Regions from separate parts of the Homo sapiens genome. Here all the other regions are linked to region 2. The links come from fine-mapping of genetic effects on gene expression. A gene starts in region 2. Each other region holds a variant in brackets. All regions are shown on one strand. Distances are between the middles of the regions.

Evidence for each region.
Region 1: its variant is fine-mapped to the expression of CRTAP in esophagus muscle (GTEx, PIP 0.99). The same link has a PIP of 0.9 or more in transverse colon.
Region 3: its variant is fine-mapped to the expression of CRTAP in whole blood (TOPMed, PIP 0.95).
Region 4: its variant is fine-mapped to the expression of CRTAP in whole blood (TOPMed, PIP above 0.99). The same link has a PIP of 0.9 or more in blood mononuclear cells, monocytes and neutrophils.

The regions. Positions count from the first base shown.
Region 1 is chr3:33,141,278-33,146,426 of GRCh38, forward strand. CRTAP (cartilage associated protein) reads left to right here. Exons shown (of 7, transcript NM_006371.5): 7 at 1,118-5,149. The coding sequence ends at 1,171. Among named protein-coding and RNA genes, the nearest start is that of CRTAP, 30 kb to the left of the region's middle. The variant G/A (reference allele first, on the strand shown) is at 2,638.
Region 2 is chr3:33,111,733-33,116,881 of GRCh38, forward strand. CRTAP (cartilage associated protein) reads left to right here and starts at 2,282. Exons shown (of 7, transcript NM_006371.5): 1 at 2,282-2,816. The coding sequence starts at 2,346. RefSeq lists enhancers at 1-112, 2,993-3,984 and silencers at 2,112-2,411, 2,852-3,041, 4,568-4,716.
Region 3 is chr3:33,063,102-33,068,232 of GRCh38, forward strand. GLB1 (galactosidase beta 1) reads right to left here. Exons shown (of 16, transcript NM_000404.4): 4 at 5,129-5,131; 5 at 2,362-2,456. Among named protein-coding and RNA genes, the nearest start is that of GLB1, 31 kb to the right of the region's middle. The variant A/G (reference allele first, on the strand shown) is at 2,467.
Region 4 is chr3:33,150,474-33,155,622 of GRCh38, forward strand. It overlaps SUSD5 (sushi domain containing 5), which reads right to left. Exons shown (of 5, transcript NM_015551.2): 5 at 1-3,560. The coding sequence ends at 2,269. Among named protein-coding and RNA genes, the nearest start is that of CRTAP, 39 kb to the left of the region's middle. RefSeq lists an enhancer at 2,342-3,541. The variant T/C (reference allele first, on the strand shown) is at 2,173.

The DNA.
Region 1 (5,149 bases), 30 kb after region 2:
CCTAAGCAGAAGTCATAGCTATACACATAATCCCTCTACTATGCTGTGTTTTCCTTTTGGGGTCTAGAAAGCAACTGAAAAACAATTTTTCCAAGCTGTAGTGTCTACAGTTTGAGTTTCTAATCTCAGGCATGACATAGTAGAAGTATTTGATGATAATACTAAGACCCCCCATTTGTGTCTCATGTACTTGATAGGTTTTCCAGTTATTCCCAAATGCTGCAAGATTTTTATAAATTTCTCTGTGTTAAAACATCAAAAGGAGCCAACAGGCTCTTGGCCTGGGATGGTGAGCTCAGTGAAGGAGGTCGAGTTTTAGCAGGGTTGGTGGGGCCAGTCTGTGTTGACTCTTATGGAAGGGGCCTCAGCCTTGGTCATTCACTCATTCTCTGCAGAAAAGAGAATGGGTGTCATCAGCTGGTGGTCCAGGAGGGTTATAGAAGAGAAGTCAATGTGGAGAAAGAAATTGGGAAGGGTGCTGGGCTGCTTCAAGTTGAAGTATAAGGCTGATTGCAGAAGGAGGGAGCAGGTGAGCTCCTGGTACCGACACTGGGCAAGTGGATCCCACTATCCCTGTGTGTCTCTCCTGTAAGAGGAGTGATTGCTTCAGTCACACCAGCAGTATGTATGCAAGCACTCAATCATTCATCCTTCAACACATGTATTGAGCACCTTCTGTGTGCTGGACTCTGGGGAAGAAAAATCAACCCAGTCCCCTGGTCCTTGAGAAGTTTGGGTTCTGGTGGTCAAGGCAGAAAGGGAACAGATAGAAAATGTTCCTGTGGGAGACCTGCACACATGAGAGGGGAGGAAGGGGAGTAGGCAGAGATGCACACAGGAGGGCCACTTAGTAGAGCTGTTCACAGGCTGGGCTGTCCGCCTCACACAGCATGTTGGCGGATCTCGCAGAGCACTTGATACCAAGTTCAAATGGAGTGGAAGCCGAGGTCCCCTCCACAGGGAGAAATCAGGTCCTCTGGGCCCCAGACCAGCAGAAAAAACCTGTTTCAGCCAAAGCAGACAGTGGTGATGGCCTCTCGGGATACTGTTTCTGCTCATCAGTACTTTTAAAAGTCCAATAGCCCATTTAATAAAGTTGTCCTGTTGTCTCTTACAGGGAGAAGTTGTGGAATATGTGGATGACCTCTTGGAACTGGAGGAGACCAGCTAGCCCACAGCAACCAAAGAGACTTCCTCTTGGCGTTCAGGAAACACAGATTCTTTGTCCTTTTCCCAACAGCCCAGGCTGTTGATACCTCAGAGCCTTCTCTTTACTCTCCAAAGTGAAAGGGAAGCCCCCGTCTCTCTAACTGCATGTCATCAGGGGTGAGCCTGCCTTTCCTATCTTCACACCTGCCACCTCATGTTCACACCTATCTTTCTCACCTTTTTTTTGAGATGGAGTCTCGCTCTCTTGCCCAGGCTGGAGTGCAATGGCACGTTCTCAGCTCACTGCAACCTCCGCCTCTTGGGTTCAAGCAATTCTGCTGCATCAGCCTCCCGAGTACCTGGGATTACAGGCATGTGCCACCACGCCCGGCTAATTTTGTATTTTTAGTAGAGACGGGGTTTTGCCATGTTGGCCAGGCTGGTCTCGAACTCTTGACTTCAGATGATCCATCTGCCTTGGCCTCCCACAGTGCTGGGATTACAGGCGTGAGCCACCATGCCCGGCCTCTTTCTCACCTTTACACCTGTCTTCTTATCCTCACATCTGTTTTCACACCTTCATCCCTGTCTTCCTCATGTTCACACTTGTCTTCCCCATGTTCATAGCTGCCTTTCTTACCATTTTGGTTTGAAGGGCAGTCTTCTCTGGCTTGTTTTTTTGTTTTTCCCAGAAAATCAGTATTATTTTTTAAATAAGAAAAACATTCCTAGAAGATGATAATTGTGAAAACCTCCTTTGGCTTATTTGCTTTTCCAGATTTTAGTCTCCTTTCTCCCCATCCGGGAAAGATGGTGGAAGACATAGGCTAAATTTCTCCAGCCTCACAATGGTCTTCACTTGGTCTGACTTGTACCAATTCTAGCACCCACTGAAAAACAAGTTGAGTAGAGAGTGTAGAGTGCAGAAATGTGGCTTTTGCCCCACTTTGCATCTCCAAAATTACAACGGTTGGCCGATCCCATTTGAGGACAATGCTTAGTTATAAGTCTCCGAGTTGGAAAAGGAAGAAAGCCAGAGCTGTCTAGTTTCATTCATTCTTTCAGTAAATATTTATTGAGTACCTACTGTGTGCTAGGCATTGACCTGGGAACTAGAGATACTTCACAGAATAACAGGGAAAGTTCCCTGTGCTCATGGAGCTTACATTCTACAGGGAGAAAGAGATAGCCAATACATAGGAATAAATATATACAAGGTATCATGTAGTGATAATTGCTGTGGAGAAAAATAAAGCAGGGGAGGGAGTAAGAAATCCTGGAGATGAGGCTGCAGTTTTAAATGGGGCCTCACTGGGAATGTGACGTTGAGCAGAGACGTTAGGGAAGTGGATCCTGGACAAGGCATTCCAGGCAGAGGAACAGGATGTGCACTGCCCCAAAGTGAGAACTTGCTCTACGTGGTCAGGAAAGAGCAGGGAGACCAAGCAGAGTCGTGGGCAGGGGTAGAATGGAAGGAGAGGCGGCTGG[G/A]GAGGACAGGTGGTGGAGGGCCTTGGCTTCTGCTAAGTGAGATGGGAACCACTGGAGGGTTTGAACAGAGGAGTGCCTTGATTGATTTATATTTTGCAAGGGTCATTCTAGCTGCCATATTGTGAAAAACTTTAGTGGACAAGGGCAGAAGGAAGAGGGAAGACCTGTTAGGAAGCTACTGCAAGGTTCCAGGCTTGGGCCTGGGCCACAGCAACAGCAGTGGTCAAATATCTAGATTTATTTTGAAAAGAGCCAATAGGATTTGCTGAGAGTTTGAATGTGGAGTGTAAGAGAAGGAAGAGTTAATGATGACATTAAGGTTTTTGGCCTGAATAGCAGGAAAGATGGAGTTACCAGTTACTGAAATAGGGAAGGATGGGCTGGGTAAGTATGGAATTTGGTGCAAAGCAGGCTGTCTGTGGTTGGAATGGGAGGTTCTGGCTGCAAATCAAAGTGGAGAGTTCTCTCAGGTCAGGTCTGCAGCAGAGCTCGAGACAGGGATCTGAATGCACTTGGTTTATTGTTGGGGGTGCTCTCAGAAGGAACCTGTGAAAGCCTTTATCAGTCATTTATTGGCTGTGAGAAGTTCTCTGGGAGTGTGGGTACATTTGAAGGCAAGTGACTTCAGTTGAGGGCAAGTCTCTGGAAAAGAGGCTGTAGGCATCTGGCAGCTACCATGCATGGTAGTGTGTTGGGGGTGGGGGTCCTGGGCACTGGCTGTGTGAAGGGATCTGGCAGGGCACCACAGCGCCCCCTACTGAACCATCAGCATGTCAGTGGCATTTAAAGCCATGCAGCTGGAGGGGCCACTGAGATTGTCTCTGAGTATTACTGAGAAGCAACAGAAAAGAGCCATGGATGGAGCCCTTGGGCTCTCTGGGAAATGGGAAATCAGCCAAAGGACTGAGAAGGAGTTACCTTAAGGTCAGAGAAAACCAAGAGAGTGTGGTGTTCTGGAAGCTGAGCTTTCTTTATTCAACCTCATTCCCTTCTCCAAATAAGCCACTTGTGTAGTTGGGCCCCTCCAGGGTTGAAGGCAAGAGGAGAAAGGCACAGCGTTTGGGAAACAAGACTTTTCCTGCAATAGCCTGGGAAGGAATAAAAGGATAGAGTGTTTGGGTTTTTGTGTAATGGTGGTTAATTGGGGTGGAACACTCACACGTTGTGCTTTTTCTGGGCTTCCCTTATCCCCCAGAACACTCTACCAACCTCGGGGAACTCGGGCACATCCTTCTGTTTCTCCTTCAGCTCTATCCTGCTTTCCTCATCCCTTCTGACACCACGTCCTCACTCACCTGCACAAGAATCCCTGCATCAGGTTCTCCTTTGAGGGTACCCACCCAGGACAGTCCCCTACCACTTCTGTCTTGGGCTGAAGTTGCCCACGTCCACAAAATCTGTACTCCCAGCGGGGGTGTTTGGCCCGAGGAGTCAGTGTTATTACTGGTGGATGCACCGTGTCCACAGCAGCCCCCAATCCCAGCGATGCGTCAGATCTTACGTGGCTTCCTGCTGGGGGAGATGGCCTTCACCCACGGGATGCCGGGTTCTCCTTTCTTTCCTCACCCCAACCTTTACTCCACCAGAGAAACTTCCTTTTGAACTCAGTGGGGAAGAGGGTGATGAGACAGGACTAGAAAGTAGTGGGGGACCCAGCGAGTGGACGCCCTGCTCCGGGATTCCTGAGTCTGTAAATAGTGTGCCCAGCAGCTGTGAACTCCCCTTATAGCCTCAGGCTGCAGTGTCCTTCCCAGCTGTGTGAGAAAATGAAAGCCGACGTCCACAGGGACCCAGGCAGGGTTGGGTGTTGTGACTCACTCCACCTCTGTGCCCTGCAGAGGTACTGTTGGGTCCTTGTCTTGTGAGCCTGGGGTGAGCTCTCTGTACATGTTGTTGTTCCACGTATGGGTTGACTTGGCATGCTGGGGGGTCCTCGTTCACTCTCTGAAGTTGGCCTCCTTTCACTGGGGATTGAAAAGCACCTCCACCCCTACCCTAGTGATGTCCCCTGAGGACCCGGGTGATAGTACAGTCAATATTGTCAGTACTTTGCTTTGATTGAAGGCTGTAGAGCTGAGTTACCAAAATTTCTATTTCAAAGGAAACCAAACCTTAAAAAAAAAAAACAAAAACTGGGCTGGGTCTTCCAAACCTACCATGAAACCCTGGTGTGCAGGCTGCACTCAATGACCTCAACCCAACACCTCCCTGAGTGTGCTTCTTGGAAGAGCCTAGAAGATTCCTGGATGGAGACCCCATTGGTTCAGCCTCAAGTCTGGCCCGTCTTCGAAAAAACAAACACATTTGTAAGCTTTGTGGGAGCTTCCAGGCCTGCTCTAAGATGCCTTGCTTGTCCTTTGACCCATCAGCATGGAGCTCAGTGGTTGCTGTTTGGTTCTGCAGGCTGGTGGGGAGGCCGCCCATCGTGGTGGGGCATCTGTCCAGCCCCATTGCCACTCAGGGCATCCAAACAGGAGGCACCCGCTGGGAAGGGTCTAAAGATACTCCTTGT
Region 2 (5,149 bases):
AAAAAGACTTTATTTTTTAGAGTGGTTTTAGATTCATAGCGAAACTGAGCGGAAACTACAGAGTTCAAATATACTCCATGACCCTACAACATGCGCAAGCTCCCCCACTGTCAATGTCTTGCACTAGAATGGTACATTTGTTACAATCAATGAACCTACATCAACACATCGTTATCACCCAAAGTCCGGTTTACATTAGGGCTCACTCTTAGTGTTGTACATATTATGGATTTTAACAAATGTATAGCATATATCCACCATTATACTATCATATAGAATAGTTTCACTGCTCCAATAATCCTGTCCTCTACCCATTCATTCCTCCCTTTCCATAATTCTCAGCAACCACTGATCCTTTTACTGTCTCCATAGTTTTGCCTTTTCCAGAATGTCATTTGGCTGGAATCACACAGTATGTAGCCTTTTCAGTTTGGCTTCTTTCAACCAGTAATATGCATTTAAGACTTCTCCATGTCTTTTCATGGCTTGATAGCTCATTTCTTTTTGGCTTGGAATAAAATTCCATTGTGTGTATATACCACAGTTTATGTATCCACTTACCCACTGAAGGACATCTTGGTTGATTCCAAGTTATGGTAATTGTGAATAAAGTTGCTACAAACATCCATTCGCAGGTGTGTGCATAAGTTTTAACCCATTTGGGTAAATACCAAGAAGTGCAATTTCTGGATTGTATGAGTAGAGTATGCCTAGTTTTGTAAGAAACGGCCCAACTGTCTTCTAAACTGTATGTACCATTTTGCATTGCCACTATCAATGAATGAGAGTTCCTGTTGCTCCACATCCTTGTCAGCATGTGACGTTGTCAGTGTTTTGGATTTTGTAGTGGTATCTCATTGCTGTTTTGGCCTATATTTTTCAAAAATGACAACGGCATGACAAGAAAAGCCGAGGAACCAGTTTAAAGGATATGAAATAGACTAGATGTAACAGTGATCACGGATGGACTGCATCCTAAGAGAAAAAAGTGCCATGAAAGACATAATTGGAACAGCTGACATAACCGGAAATGGAACATGATTAAAGTCTTCTATCAGTATTAAATTTCCTAAATTTGATTGTCTGGTAGTTTCATTCTTAGGACATACATACTGAAAGACTAAGGGGTTGGGCACGGTGGCTCACGCCTGTAATCCCAGCACTTTGGGAGGCAGAGGCAGGTAGATCACCTAAGGTCAGGAGTTCAAGAACAGCCTGGCCAACATGGCAAAACCTCATCTCTAGTAAAAAATAGAAAAATTAGCCAGGTATGGTGGTGTGTGCCTATGATCCCAGCTACTCGGGAGGCTAAGGCAGGGAGAATTGCTTGAACCCGGGAGGCGGAGGTTGCAGTGAGCCGAGATCGCGCCACTGCACTCCAGCCTGGGTGACAGGGCGAGACTCCGTCTCAAAAAAAAAAAAAGGAAAAAAAAAAAGAAAAAAAAAAGACTAACGGACAGTGGGCCTGATACATGCAACCTATCTCAAATGAGTCAGAAAAAAATGTAAAGATAGAAATGTGGTATAACGTTAGCAACTTGTGAATCTTGATGAAGGGTATATAGGAACTTTTTGTACTGTTTTTGCAGCTTTCTTGTAAATTATTTCAAGATTTAAAAGTTTAAAGATTTTTTAAAAGTGCTGCCATTAACATTCCATCCATATTTTTTGATGCACACGCGCAAGCTTCTCCAGCATATTCCACCGAATGGTGTTGCAGATTCATAAGGTGTGCACATCTTCAACCTGACTAGCTATACAGTTTACAAAGTGCTGACATCCTTATTAATTTTATTTTTGCACTGTCTTTTTCTCTCACTAAAATTTAAGGTTGGGCAGTGCTATTAAAAGTGCGGCCCTTGGGCCCGCAGCATTAGCCTCATCAGGGTGCTGGTTAAACACACAAATCGTCAGACCTCCACCCCAGACTTTCTGAATCAGAAACTCTGGGGGCACAGCCCAGGAATCTTCGTTTTCACAAACCTCCAAACGAATATAAAGATCGTAGATTATATAGACCGTAGGGCCGATGTATATAATCTATTAGGGCCGCGTCGGCCTTGCAGGCGGGTCTCCAAGTGAATGAGCGGCAGAGTCCCATCATGCGCATCAGCCTGCGTGAACCAGTGCGCAGCGCGCCTTTCCCGGGCACCCTCTAGGTGCTGGCAGCTGGCGCCCAGATCCCCCGGCTGGGTGGGGAGGGGCGGCCGGACGGGGCGGGCCGGAGGCTGGCGTCCCCGCCCCGAAAGCACTGGGCCCGCCGCGTCGCACCGTCCTCTTTCCTTTCCTTCTCCCTCCCCTTTTCCCTTCCTTCGTCCCTTCCTTCCTTCCTTTCGCCGGGCGCGATGGAGCCGGGGCGCCGGGGGGCCGCGGCGCTGCTAGCGCTGCTGTGCGTGGCCTGCGCGCTGCGCGCCGGGCGCGCCCAATACGAACGCTACAGCTTCCGCAGCTTCCCACGGGACGAGCTGATGCCGCTCGAGTCGGCCTACCGGCACGCGCTGGACAAGTACAGCGGCGAGCACTGGGCCGAGAGCGTGGGCTACCTGGAGATCAGCCTGCGGCTGCACCGCTTGCTGCGCGACAGCGAGGCCTTCTGCCACCGCAACTGCAGCGCCGCGCCGCAGCCCGAGCCCGCCGCCGGCCTCGCCAGCTATCCCGAGCTGCGCCTCTTCGGGGGCCTGCTGCGCCGCGCGCACTGCCTCAAGCGCTGCAAGCAGGGCCTGCCAGCCTTCCGCCAGTCCCAGCCCAGCCGCGAGGTGCTGGCGGACTTCCAGCGCCGCGAGCCCTACAAGTTCCTGCAGTTCGCTTACTTCAAGGCAAGTCCGCCTCGCCCCGTCCCAGGCCCCGGCCCCGCCCCTGACCCAGCCTCCAGGCCCTAGCCCCGCCCCTGCGCCCGGGGCCGCGTTGCCCCTCCAGTTCTAGACCTGGCTCCCTCCCATCCAGCCCTGCCAAAGGTCTCCTCCAAGTCCTGTCTCCTTCTTCATCTCAACTAGAGATGAAAATGCCTTTCTTGAAGGGTAACTCTAAGGTAGAGAATACGTACACAGAACGCAGTACAGCGCCAGGCACCCAACAAAGTGCCTGATAAATGTTCTCTGTTATTTGAGGGCAGACGCCTCTTTTCTGTATATACCATTAAAGTCGCCTTTTTTCTCAAGTGAGCGGTGACTTGCGATAATAAAGCAGAAGACCTGAGGAGCCGACAAGTACCTTTTATTTTTATTTTTTGTTGAGACAGGGTCTCACAGTCGCCCAGGCTGGAGTGCAGAGGCGCTATCATGGCTCACTGCAGCCTTGACCTCCTCAGGCTCAGGTGATCCTCCACCTCAGCCTCCTGAGTAGCTGGGATTATAGGCGCGCGCCACCACACCTAGCTAATTTTTTGGTATTTTCTGTAGAGACAGAGTTTCGCCACGTTGCCCAGGCTGATCTCGAACTCCCGGACTCAAGTGATCCTCCCACCTCGCCTCCCAGAGTTCTGGGATTACAGTCGTGAGCCATTGCACCCAGCTGACTAGTTCCTTTTAAAGAGGATGAAATTGAGGCCAGGGAAGGGCAGGGACTCCTTGCAAGGACACATCCCTGCTTAAAGGGGAACTCGTGCACCGTGAGTCATCAGGATTGGCCCTCTCCGCTGTTTCTCTCTTTCATCTAGAATTTAACACAGTTCACTGCCTCCTTTTAATGGCTGCTTAAGTTCTCTCTGTGATTGCTGGCTAAAAATAGCCACAAATTGCAGTTCTCTATCCTATGGGTTCTCACTCCGAGGACCCACAAGTTTTAAGAATGGTTAGATTCCCTGTCACTAGATAAAGAGGCTCTAGCTTGGTGGGTCCTCACAGGGTTTGGCTAAAAGAGCCCTCTCAAAGCCCAGTTTCTACTTTCTCTGAGAAAGATTTTAAAAGGAATATATTGTGTTTTTTAAAATTACTACAAAAATAGATTCATGGCATATCCTAGACTCTTGAGGTAGAAGGTTTTTGTTTTTAAACTTTGTTTTCAGTTTCTGGACTGCAAGATCTGTTTTTTCAGATTTCCACCGAGACAGAGCCACGTGTATATTGTATTTATATGAGCAATAAAATAACACAAAACCCCAAAGAGGGGAAAAGCTGGGTTACTTCTATACTTCTATGCTTAGTTACAGTTTTATTTAAAGTATCAGTTTTGTGAATGTTTGTTCTGGCAATTAAAAAAAAACAGTTTTAAAACAGAAGCAGGGAATGAGATTAATAAAATTCCAGAATGTTGAAAATGAGGGCTGGTTCATACAAAGCATCATTTTTTAAGCTAAAAATGACTTATCTAATTCTTTTTTTGTATAGCTTTTGGCAAATATGTTCTGAACCAAATTTAGGTCACATAATCAAGAGGAAATCATTTTATTTTTAAACCTAGAGAATACTAGAACCTCTGATTTCTTTAATATACAGATGAATTTGAACAAGTGTTACAGGGAAGAGGGGAAGAACATTTTACTCAATGTGACCAAAAGGCATGGGTTTTCTCTTTCATCATGGTGGCCCCAAAAGGTTAGGATGGTCATAGCTTCTCTTCAAAACCCTTTACAGGTCTTGTAACAATCACTTAGTTGAAAGTCAGTAAAATACTATCTATCTATCTGTCTATCTATCTGTTTTTTTTGAGACACAGTTTCACTTTGTCACCCAGACTGGAATGCAGTGGCACGATCTCAGCTCGCTGCAACCTCTGCCTCCAGGGTGCAAGCAATTCTTGTATCTCAGCCTCCTGAGTAGCTGGGATTACGGGCATGTGCCACCACACCCAGCTAATTTTTGTATTTTTAGTAGAGATGGGGTTTCACCATGTTGGCCAGGCTGGTCTCGAACTTCTAACCTCAAGTGATCCACCTACCTTGGCCTCCCAAAATGCTGAGATTACAGTCTGGGATTTGAACCACCATGCCCGGCCACCATCTTAACATTTTGAGATCTCATATAGGGCAGGAAAAAGCTAAGAATTTTATTAATAAACGTGAATGTTACTTAATTGTTTCAATGGAAGATATAACTGAAAAAGTAATTTTTGGTGGAGATATTGTATGGTGTATTTTTTCTCAATGATGTTTATGGCTTGGCATGATGGCTCATGCCTATAATCCCAGCACTTTGGGATGCCAAGGTGGGAG
Region 3 (5,131 bases), 49 kb before region 2:
ACTGTGCGTCAGAAGGTAAGTAGGACAACCATGAAAGATGATGAAAGAATTTTGAACGATATGAAAAAGTGCTCATGACAAAGAATGAAGCAAAAAAAGCCACACAGAAAATAGGTCACACAGAATGAACTTACTCTGTAAGAAAGCAGAAAAAAAAGGCATAAAAAATATTCAAGGAAACTCCCAAAATGTGAAGAGCTTTGCTATGGCTCCTGAGGTTTGAGTAACAATTATGTTTTTTCTGCTTTCTTATGTCTATACTTGTTTATTTTGTAAACAAGGGGCAAAAATGATTAGTGGGATTCAAGCATGTGGAGATGGGAAGGGGAGAGGAGGAGGAGGAGGGGGACAGAGTCACCTGGCAGGACCCAGGGTCAAGTTAAAGTCATCTGAGGTTGCTAGGGATGGACACAAGAAGAAATATCTCCACACAGTCAACTTCATTCTCCTTTGCAGAATTAATACTTGATTATACTTTTTGTGGCATTTCCAAAACCAAAAGGGGCAGAAAAGTTGTGAGCAGAAATTGAAAGTGATTCAAGGAGAGGCAGAGACTGAAAAAAAGAGGGCATCAAAAGAGGGTTTGCACCTGAGGCCAGAAGAAAGGAAGAAGACACAGCCATGCAGAGCAAAGACGCACCCAAGTTTCAGACTTGATATCTTCATGTAGGAAAATGTGGTTCCTATTAGCTTAACCAGTACAGACACAAGATGGTAAAAACTAGGGGCACGTGGGGTGACTCACACATCCCTCTGTGAGCAGCAACCTGGCCTCTCTCAAGAAGACATCTCCTCCCACCACAAAGCCTCAGAACGGACACCCTGGCCAGTGCAGCCCTCTCAGCACCTCTGTCCACCGACACCTGAAAGGCAAAGCAGTGCCCATGCTCCCACCCTACTATGATCCATCCCCACAAGCTGCCCATAGTACTGTTCATAAGAAGGAAGCCTGGCCCACACTCCCCTAGGGAGTGCCACTTTGCATCCCTGGGATGTCCAGGATGCAGCCACTTTTACATAACTTTACTCTTTTCCATAAAAGCATCCCTGGTCATAGCTGGGCACGGTGGCTCACGCCTGTAATCCCAGCACTTTGGGAGGCTGAGGTGGGTGAATCACCTGAGGTCAGGAGTTTGAGACCAGCCTGGTCAACATGGTGAAACCCTGTCTCTACTAAAAATACAAAAACATAGCCAGGCATCGTGGTGCACGCCTGTAATGCCAGCTACTTGGGAGGCTGACACAGGAGGGTCGCCTGAACCTGGGAGGCAGAGGTTGCAGTGAGCCGAGATTGTGCCACTGCATTCCAGCCTGGGCGACAGAGCGAGACTCTGTCTCCTAAAAAAAAAAACAAAAAACCTTTACTCTTTTCCATAAGAGCATCCTTGGTCATAGCCGGGCACGGTGGCTCACGCCTGTAATCCCAGCACTTTGGAAGGCCAAGGCGGGCAGATCACCTGAGGTCAGGAGTTTGAGACCAGCCTGGCCAACATGGCGAAACCCCGTCTCTACTAAAAATACAAAAATTAGCCAGGCATGGTGGCATGCGCCTGTAATCCCAGCTACATGGGAGGCTGAGGTGGGAGAATTGCCTGAACTCAGAAGGCAGAGGTTGCAGTAAGCCGAGATTGCCCCACTGCACTCCAGCCTGGGCAACGGAATGAGACTCTCTCTCAAAAAAAAAAAAAAAAAAAAAAGAGCATCCATGGCATCCTTGGTCAATGTCCAATGAACATGGTTTTATGTTTCACCTAAGTAATTTTACCAACACCAAAAACTGTTAAAGTTCAATGTACCCCACAGTATATTAGTCCTTGCAGAGCCAAGAACACATAGAAGAAGGAGAATGGGGCAGGAAGTAAGAGAGGAAACATAACAGCCAGCCCCAATTGACCATATCCTTTTCCATTCCAGGGTTATCTGACTGTCAAGGCAGTGCCGATACCAAAGTGTTTCAGTCCACGCTGCATGCCTGCTGCCAGAAAACAATATTGCAGGAGAAACAGAGAGACAAACTCTGGGATCCACAGAATTAGGGTGCTATCCTAATTCTGCCACCTGCTGGCTGGGTGACCTTAGCCAAGTCACTTAACCTTTTCAAACTTCCTCACTGAAAAAAGAAGGTGGTTGGAAGAATTGAATAGCATTTACAAGGCACCCAGCACAAAGCCTGCCACATAGCAGGCATTCAAAAATGGCAATGCCTTCCCAAATGCAATTGAACTAAAAGCACTATCTGTGGCATTACCTCTTAAAGAAACAGACCTATGAGGCTCATGTCTGCATCACTTCTATCATTTATGTAATGTAGATGGATGGGAACCCCTCCCCCAATCCATCCATGCTCAACTCCAGGGTTACCTGCACTGTTATAACTGGCCCTCCATTCTGATAGAGGAGAGGCTTCATCTTGGGCAGAAGGACTCCCAACCACTTGTCCACAGCTGCCAGGTAATCTGGAAAACA[A/G]GAAAAGTTTAACACAAGCTTGTCCAACCCCAGCCTGTAAGCCACATGCAGCCCAGGATGGCTTTGAATGTGGCCCAACACAAATTCGTAAACTTTTTAAAAACATTCTGAGTTTTCTGGCTGGGTGCGGTGGCTCACGCCTGTAATCCCAGCACTTTGGGAGGCTGAGGCAGGCAGATCACCAGATGTCGGGAGTTCGAGACCAGCCTGACCAACATGGAGAAACCCCATCTCTACTAAAAATGCAAAATTAGCCAGGCTTGGTGGCGCATGCCTGTAATCCCAGCTACTTGGGAGGCTGAGGCAGGAGAATTGCTTGAACCCGGGGGGGCGGAGGTTGCGGTGAGCCAAGATCGCACCATTGCACTCCAGCCTGGGCAACAAGAGTGAAACTCTGTCTCAAAAAAAAAAAAAAAAAAAATTATGATTTAGTACAAAGAGACACCAGTGCAGCCTTATTACACCAGGGCTGGCAGCAGAGATCAGGATATACAGGACTCGACAAGTACCTTCTGAAGTAAAAGTCTCATAAAAGTTGTCCTGCATGTAGTTGTCTCCTCAGCTGAGCTCCTCAGGGGACGAGGACCAGTGTGCCTGTATCCATCTGCTATGGTTGGAATGTTTGTCCCTCTGAAACTCATGTTGAAATCGAATCCCCAATGTGGTAGTATTGAGAGGTGGGGCCTTTAAGAGGTGTTGAGTCATGAGGGCTCAGCCCTCATAAGTAGATCAATCCACTCATGGATTAATAGATTAATAGGTTAATGGATTCATGGGTCATCATGGGAATGGGACTGGTGGCTTTATAAGAAGAGGGAGAGAGATCTGAGCTAGGACACTCAGCCCCCTCACCATGTGATGCCCTGTGCCCCCTCAGGACTCTGCAGAGTCCCCACCAGCAAGAAGGCCCTCACCAGATATAGCCCCTCCACCTTGAACTTCTTGGCCTCCATAACTGTAGGAAATAAATGCTTTTCTTTATAAATTACTCAGTTTCAGGTATTCTGTTACAAGCAACAGAAAACAGACTAAGACCATCCTTGCCACAGGACACAAAGCCTGGAGCATAGAACATATCCAAGCAATGTTTGCTGAATGAAGAAAAGAGTGACTGAACAGTGTATCCTCTTCTCAGTCACAGGAAGGCTTTTTTTCCGTATAAAATGAAGTTCTAATAAATTCTATATTTATATTGTCAAATAGGAATAATAAATGTACATGCCACATAAAGTTGGCATAAAGATTAAATGAGTTACCACAGTGAAAACACCAATAATATGCTAAGCGTGCAAAACATGAAGGTACTGGAGTAAGACAAAGAAAAAAACTATCATTTACACATTGCTCTATAAAAGTGGCCAGAATATAGAAGGCATTGCAGCTACCAAGCAATCCAATGACACCATCCCAGAAACTGTCATTTTGTTTTTATTTCTTTTTTTTTTTTTTTTTGAGACAGAGTTTCGCTCTTGTTGCCCAGGCAGGAATGCAATGGCGCAATCTGGGCTCACTGCAACCTCTGCCTCCCAGCTTCAAGCAATTCTCCTGCCTCAGCCTCCCGAGTAGCTGGGATTACAGGCATGCACCACCACACCCAGCTAATTTTGTATTTTTTAGTAGAGACAGGGTTTCCTCATGTTGGTCAGGCTGGTCTCGAACTCCTGACCTCAGGTGATCCACCCACCTCGGCCTCCCAAAGTGCTGGGATTACAGGCATGAGCCACTACGCCCGACCTTATTTCTTTTTTTGAGACAAAGTCCCTCTCTGTTGCCCAGGATGGAGTGCAGTGGTACAATCATGGCTCACTGCAGTCTCAACCTCCCAGGCTCAAGCAATCCTCCCACCTCAGCCTCCCGGACTACAGGCATGTGCCAGCACACCTGGCTAATTTTTATAGAGATAGGGTCTCGCTATGTTACCTAGGCTGGTATCAAACTCCTGGGCTCAAGCAATCCCTCCACTTTGGCCTCCCAAAGTGCTGAGATTACAAGTGTGAGTCACCATGCCTGACTTGTCATTTTGATTAGCGAGGTGCTATCATTGGCTGTGGAATATGCTAAGTAAATAGGAAGAGAAAGCACTGAAGTCAGTTGGTCAACCGCAAACAGGGTTCAATACCAATTCAAAGAATTACCAGTTTATCAGTAAGATCTGGTTACGTAGTTCAAAGCCTAATTTCCTAGAGGTTTAGTTTGTTGCTATGCACTGGTCAGTGATAAACACTCAGACTTTCACTAAACTTTCAAAAGTATTTGTGCAGAGGTACCCCAGCCTTCAAAATACCTCCCCCTTTTGATATAAATTGTTGAAGCTTTTTTGTTTGTTTGTTTGTTTTGAGACAGAGTCACGCTTTGTCACCCAGGCTATAGTGCATTGATACGATCTCGGTTCACTGCAACTTCCGCCTCCAGGGTTCAAGCAATCCTTCTGCCTCAGCCTCCTGAGTAGCTGGGATTACAGGCGCCCACCACCATGCCCAGCTAATTTTTTGTATTTTTAGTAGGGGCGAGGTTTTGCCATTTTGGCCAGCCTGGTCTCGAACTCCCAACCTCAGGTAATCCACCCGCCTCAGCCTCCCAAAGTGTCAGGATTACAGGCGTGAGCCACCGCACCTAGGCTGAAGCTTTTATAAATCTTCTCAAGACATCTGTAACAACCTACCTG
Region 4 (5,149 bases), 39 kb after region 2:
TATTTTATATAGTTAAAAATAGAAAAGTTATCTTGCAGTAGATTAGGATCTAATTTATAAATATATACAGTCTCTGGCTTTTATTCTATTATGTTTTGCTTTGGCTACATGCAGAAAGCATTTTATTCCTATTGTTCTTGACTTCGTCTGATGCACAGGTATTCTAGTTGGTACCTTCAGGCTTTATTTTACCCAACTATGGGGAATAAGATCTTTGATTATGCTGCCTCTCTTTACAGCTACTTCGCCTATTACTTTTCCAAAGCTTGCTGAAAAGAGGTGGCAGGGTAGAAAACATGTTGCGAATGTTTTTTTTCCTTAGGTAAAACACCACCAACAATTTTTCAATCATAAAAAAGATCAGGATTTCCCTCTACCACACAAAAACACTTAGACTGCTATGGTGTCTCAAAATAAATGTGTTGCATTCATCACTTTTTACCACTGATAACTATTTCTAAGAAGGTGATTCATATTAGAAAAATATAACATGTTTCATTTCTGTGCCAACATACAGGAGACTATTGCAGGTGGCATTTAGGCAGCTTCAAATGCCACCTCAGCTGCACACAGCCATGCCTGACTTCCACACAACACACACCACATACTCATCTGTGCCTTTAGGGCTTCAGCTGGCCTCGAAGTTCACATTTGAGATTATTATAAACCAACAGGCTCTCAAACTTGAGTGCATATCAAAATCACCTGGAGGGCTTGTTAAAAACAGAACTGGGCCCTACTCCCAGGGTTCCTGTTTCCTGAGTCCAGGGTGGGACTAGAGAATTTGCATCTCCAACAAATTCCCAGGTGACGCTGATGCTACTGGTCTGAGGACCACACTTTGAGAACCACTGCCATAAACCATCCTCGCTGAGCCACCCTAAGATGATTTAGATGCTACGAAATGGGTTACCCAACAGACAGGATGGATTCTGTTTCCACAGAGCTCCCAGTTTCCACACTAGAGAACAGATCAGCACAGATCATTTCATATTCTTTCACAGATTCTTCTGCTTCTCCATCAAGTATGTGCCCATACTTGATAACCTGGTGTTCGGCCCTCTGAAAACATTTCTTTTTTTTTTCTCCCGTGTCATTCTCTCTTACTGGAGTTCAGAGAAATGGTTAATCCTGAGAGAGGAAACCAAGGACTGAGTTTTGTTAGTCCTGGCAAAAATTCCAAGACATTCCTAGGCACAGACTGGTCAAGGACAACTAGGCCACTGCTTCTGAGAGGAAATGGTACTTACTGGTACAAAGCTAACTTTGTTTTTAAAAAATAATGGCAAATCCTTAACCATGAAATATTGAAAATAAAATAAAATAAATGACAGACTGTCCCACAGAATGGAGGGAACAGAGGGGGATGTGTGTTTCTTCACTCCTCAACTCCCCCAACAAAATGTCAGTCTTAAATTCTAATTTCAAGAAACAATGAAAAAAGAAACCTCAAAGCTTCTAGACTGTGTCCTGGCTCTTGGTTCATCTGCCCTCAGCAACATCACAACATTAAAAGGAAACAACCCATTATTCTTCCATATTCCTCTCCCAATAATTCAATATCCATGTCCTAGATAATACTGCTCTCATACACTTGGTTTATCATGACTATTTATAAAATTTCAGGGCATGAAGCTGGTGATTTTCTTTCTTCAAAAAGGTAATACTGTGATGTGGCTCACACCTGGAATCCTAGCACTTTGGGAGGCTAAGGAGGGCAGATCACTTGAGGTCAGGAGTTCTTGACCAGCCTGGCCAACATGGTGAAACTCCATCTCTACTAAAAATATAAAAAAATTAGCTGGGCATGGTGGTGCATGCCTGTAATCCCACCTACTTGGGAGGCTGAGGCAGGAGAATTGCTTGAACTTGGGAGGCAGAGGTTGCAGTGAGCTCAGATCGGGACACTGCACTCCAGCCTGGGCAACAGCATGAGACTCTGTCTCAAAAAAAAAAAGATAATACTGTGATGAAGGAAGAGGCGATTTTTGACCTCACACTGGAAACAGGGCCCAAGCACAGGTCTGGGATTAGTGTAGTCAATTCCAGGGCAGATGGTGGAGGAGACATTGACATGAGTGATGATGTCACCAAAGCCTCCCTGCCCTCCCAGGTGCTCCAGAGACACTTCTCAGCCTATAAAACAAAGGGCTGAGGAAAAAATGATGAGCC[T/C]CAGTCCACCTGCGTCATGCTCTAGTGAATTATCGTGTGATGTGTCACAGTTATTTTCCTCCCAAGTGGCTTTGGGAGAACCCACTCCAAAGGTGCCTAGACCTTCTCCATCTCGATCTGCTGGTGGTAGTGCCGAGCCTGCCGCTGGCCAACATTCAGCTTGTACACAGAGCTCTTGTGCTGGCACTTGCGGTAGCCCCACACCATCCCCACACCTGCCAGGAGCAGCAGTAGGCACAGGACGGTGACAATGGTGGCGATCACAGGGCCTCTGCTGAGGCCAGGACATCCGTCCCCCACACACGACTCCAAGGTGGGATGAAGCTCCTCACTTGCACCTGGCCCGGGGCCTTCCTGTCCAAAGAAGTCTTCAGACAGCAGGTATGGGAAGCTATCCTGGATCTCAGGAACAGTGGTTTCTACTGGAGGCTGGGTGGTTGCCATGATCGTTGAGGGGATGTGGTTAGGTGTCTGCTTGACAGTGTTCACTGTTAATATCTCCAGGGTGGAGCTGGTGAGCTCATAGGACAGGGTGGCCATGGGAGATTCCTCTGTGATGAATCTCCAGGGTAGAGTTGACTGGTACTTCGTCAAGTCACCATCCCCAATGCCCTCAGTCTCGGAAGCATTCACGGGTCTGAGCGCCAAAGCTTCCACATCTAGCATTTGAGATGGAAGAACTGAACTATGGGTCATGCCCTCGCTTGGTGTGAGGGTGCTACTCTTGGGCTTCTTAACTTCCACAAGAATGGGCTGATCAGGAGTAACTAGGACGTTTTCATCCAGCCCTACTGACCCATCCCCTCTGTCCCCATCTTCTTCCTCTTCTGCCTCTGTCTTCCTCCAAGCCCCCTCTGTCACAGGGTAGCCATCTAACCAGGACTCATCACTGCTGCTCACCACTGGATCTCCTGCCTTGCTGTCATTCTTGCCCACAAATGGCCCCGAGGGACCATCAGTGTTGCCGTAGATCACCTTGGTTTCAGGTTCACCTGGGACCAATTTTACACCACTGTGGTTGTCTCCAGCAGAAAACTGCTTTTTGGTGTCATCATCCACCTCCTTTTCCAACCCAGGCTTGTGGAAAGCCTCAGCAGGAAACCAGAACAAGTGCTTCTGGAGCAGCCGTGATCCTGGTGAATCTGCGGGGACACTGCTCCCAGCACCAGGCAAGCCTGTGGTTGGCACAAAGACTTTATCCCGGGCTATGTTTTCTCTCCCCACAGAAATGGAGACCAGACGGTCCTGTTTTGGAGCCTCCTCAGAGGAGTCTCCCTGACCCCTGTCCTCATCTGCCTCTGTCCGGGAATCCTCCATGAGCTCTCTGAATGACACAGATCTGTCATCAGGGAAGTTATCTTCATAGTCAATGTGTGCCTCAGCCTCATCTGGAAGAAAAGAGGGAAAAAACCTCATTAGCTCCAAAGGCACAGAGCCAGTATAGAACATAAGAAAAGGAAATTAAAAGCATAAAGGCTGGGACAGAATAAATAATACTGTTATTATTCACAGATGATATGACTGTGTATCATAGATAAACCCAAATAATCTACATATGAATATTACAAGTAACTAAAATTTAACATCTGAGCTTAGGCCGGGCATGGTGGCTCACACTTGTAATCCCAGCACTTTGGGAGGCCTAGGCAGGTGGATCACTTGAAGCCAGGAGTTCGAGACCAGCCTGGCCAACATGGCGAATGCCCATCTCTAATAAAATACAAAAAAATAGCCAGGCATGGTGGCATATGCCTGTAATCCCAGCTACTCAGGAGGATGAGACATGAGAATCGCTTGAACCCGGAAGGCGGACGTTGCAGTGAGCCAACATCGTACCACTGCACTCCAGCCTGGGTGACAGAGTGAGACTCAAAAACAACAACAACAAAAACAACAACTCAAAAACAACAACAACAAAAAACATGTGAGTTTATTAGGGATACTAGGTCTACAGTAAATATAAACATCAATTGTATTTCTAAATATTGTCAATAAACAGAAAATTAAAATTTAAAAGGATGCTATTTACAATAACATTAAAAAAACCAAACACATAGGAATAAATCTAACAAAAGATGTTCAAGACTTCTACATGGAATGATATAAGACATTGCTAAGCAAAATTAAAGAAGACTTAAATGAATGGAGGAATAGACCATGATCATGTAGTAGAAGGCTCAAGATCATTAAGTTGGCAATTCTGTCCAAATCGATCTATACAGATCTAATACAATTCCAATAAAAATCTCAGACATTAACTGAATGTTAAAGTTTATGGAAATGCAATGGATGGAAGTTTATGGAAATGCAATGTAAGAATAGACAAGGCGATATTGAAAAAGAAAAAGCCGGAAGACATATGCAAAACATTTCAAGATTTACTATAAAACTGCATTACCTTTTAAGGCTGTGGTATTGGCACAAGGACAGATAACTGGATTACATTAAAATGAAGATCCTCTGTTCATTAAAAGCTACCACAAAGAGAGTTAAAATGCAAGGCAGAGTTAGAGAAGCTATCTGCAACACATATGACCTCCAAAGGGCTTGTATCCAGAATTTAAAAAGGACTCCCACAAATCTATACTAAGTAGACAGACAAACCATAGAAAAATTGGCAAGATAGTTGACTTGGGACATCACCAGAAAGATATCAGATTAGTCATTAAACATGTGGAAAGATGCTCAACCTCACTAGTAAGAGAGAAATGTTAATTATAGTCATAATGAGATACCACTGCATAGCACCAGAATGGCTAAAATTAAACAGACCGACAATATCAAATGTTAACTAGGATATACAGCACTGTTAGTGGGAGTGTGAACTGGAACAACCACGATGGAAAACTGGGCATCTCTACTAAAATTGAACATATGGATGCTCCATGACACAGCAATTCCACTCCTAAATATATACACTTAACAGTAATGTGTGCATATGGGTACCAAAAGACACGCCTAAGAATGTTCATAATAG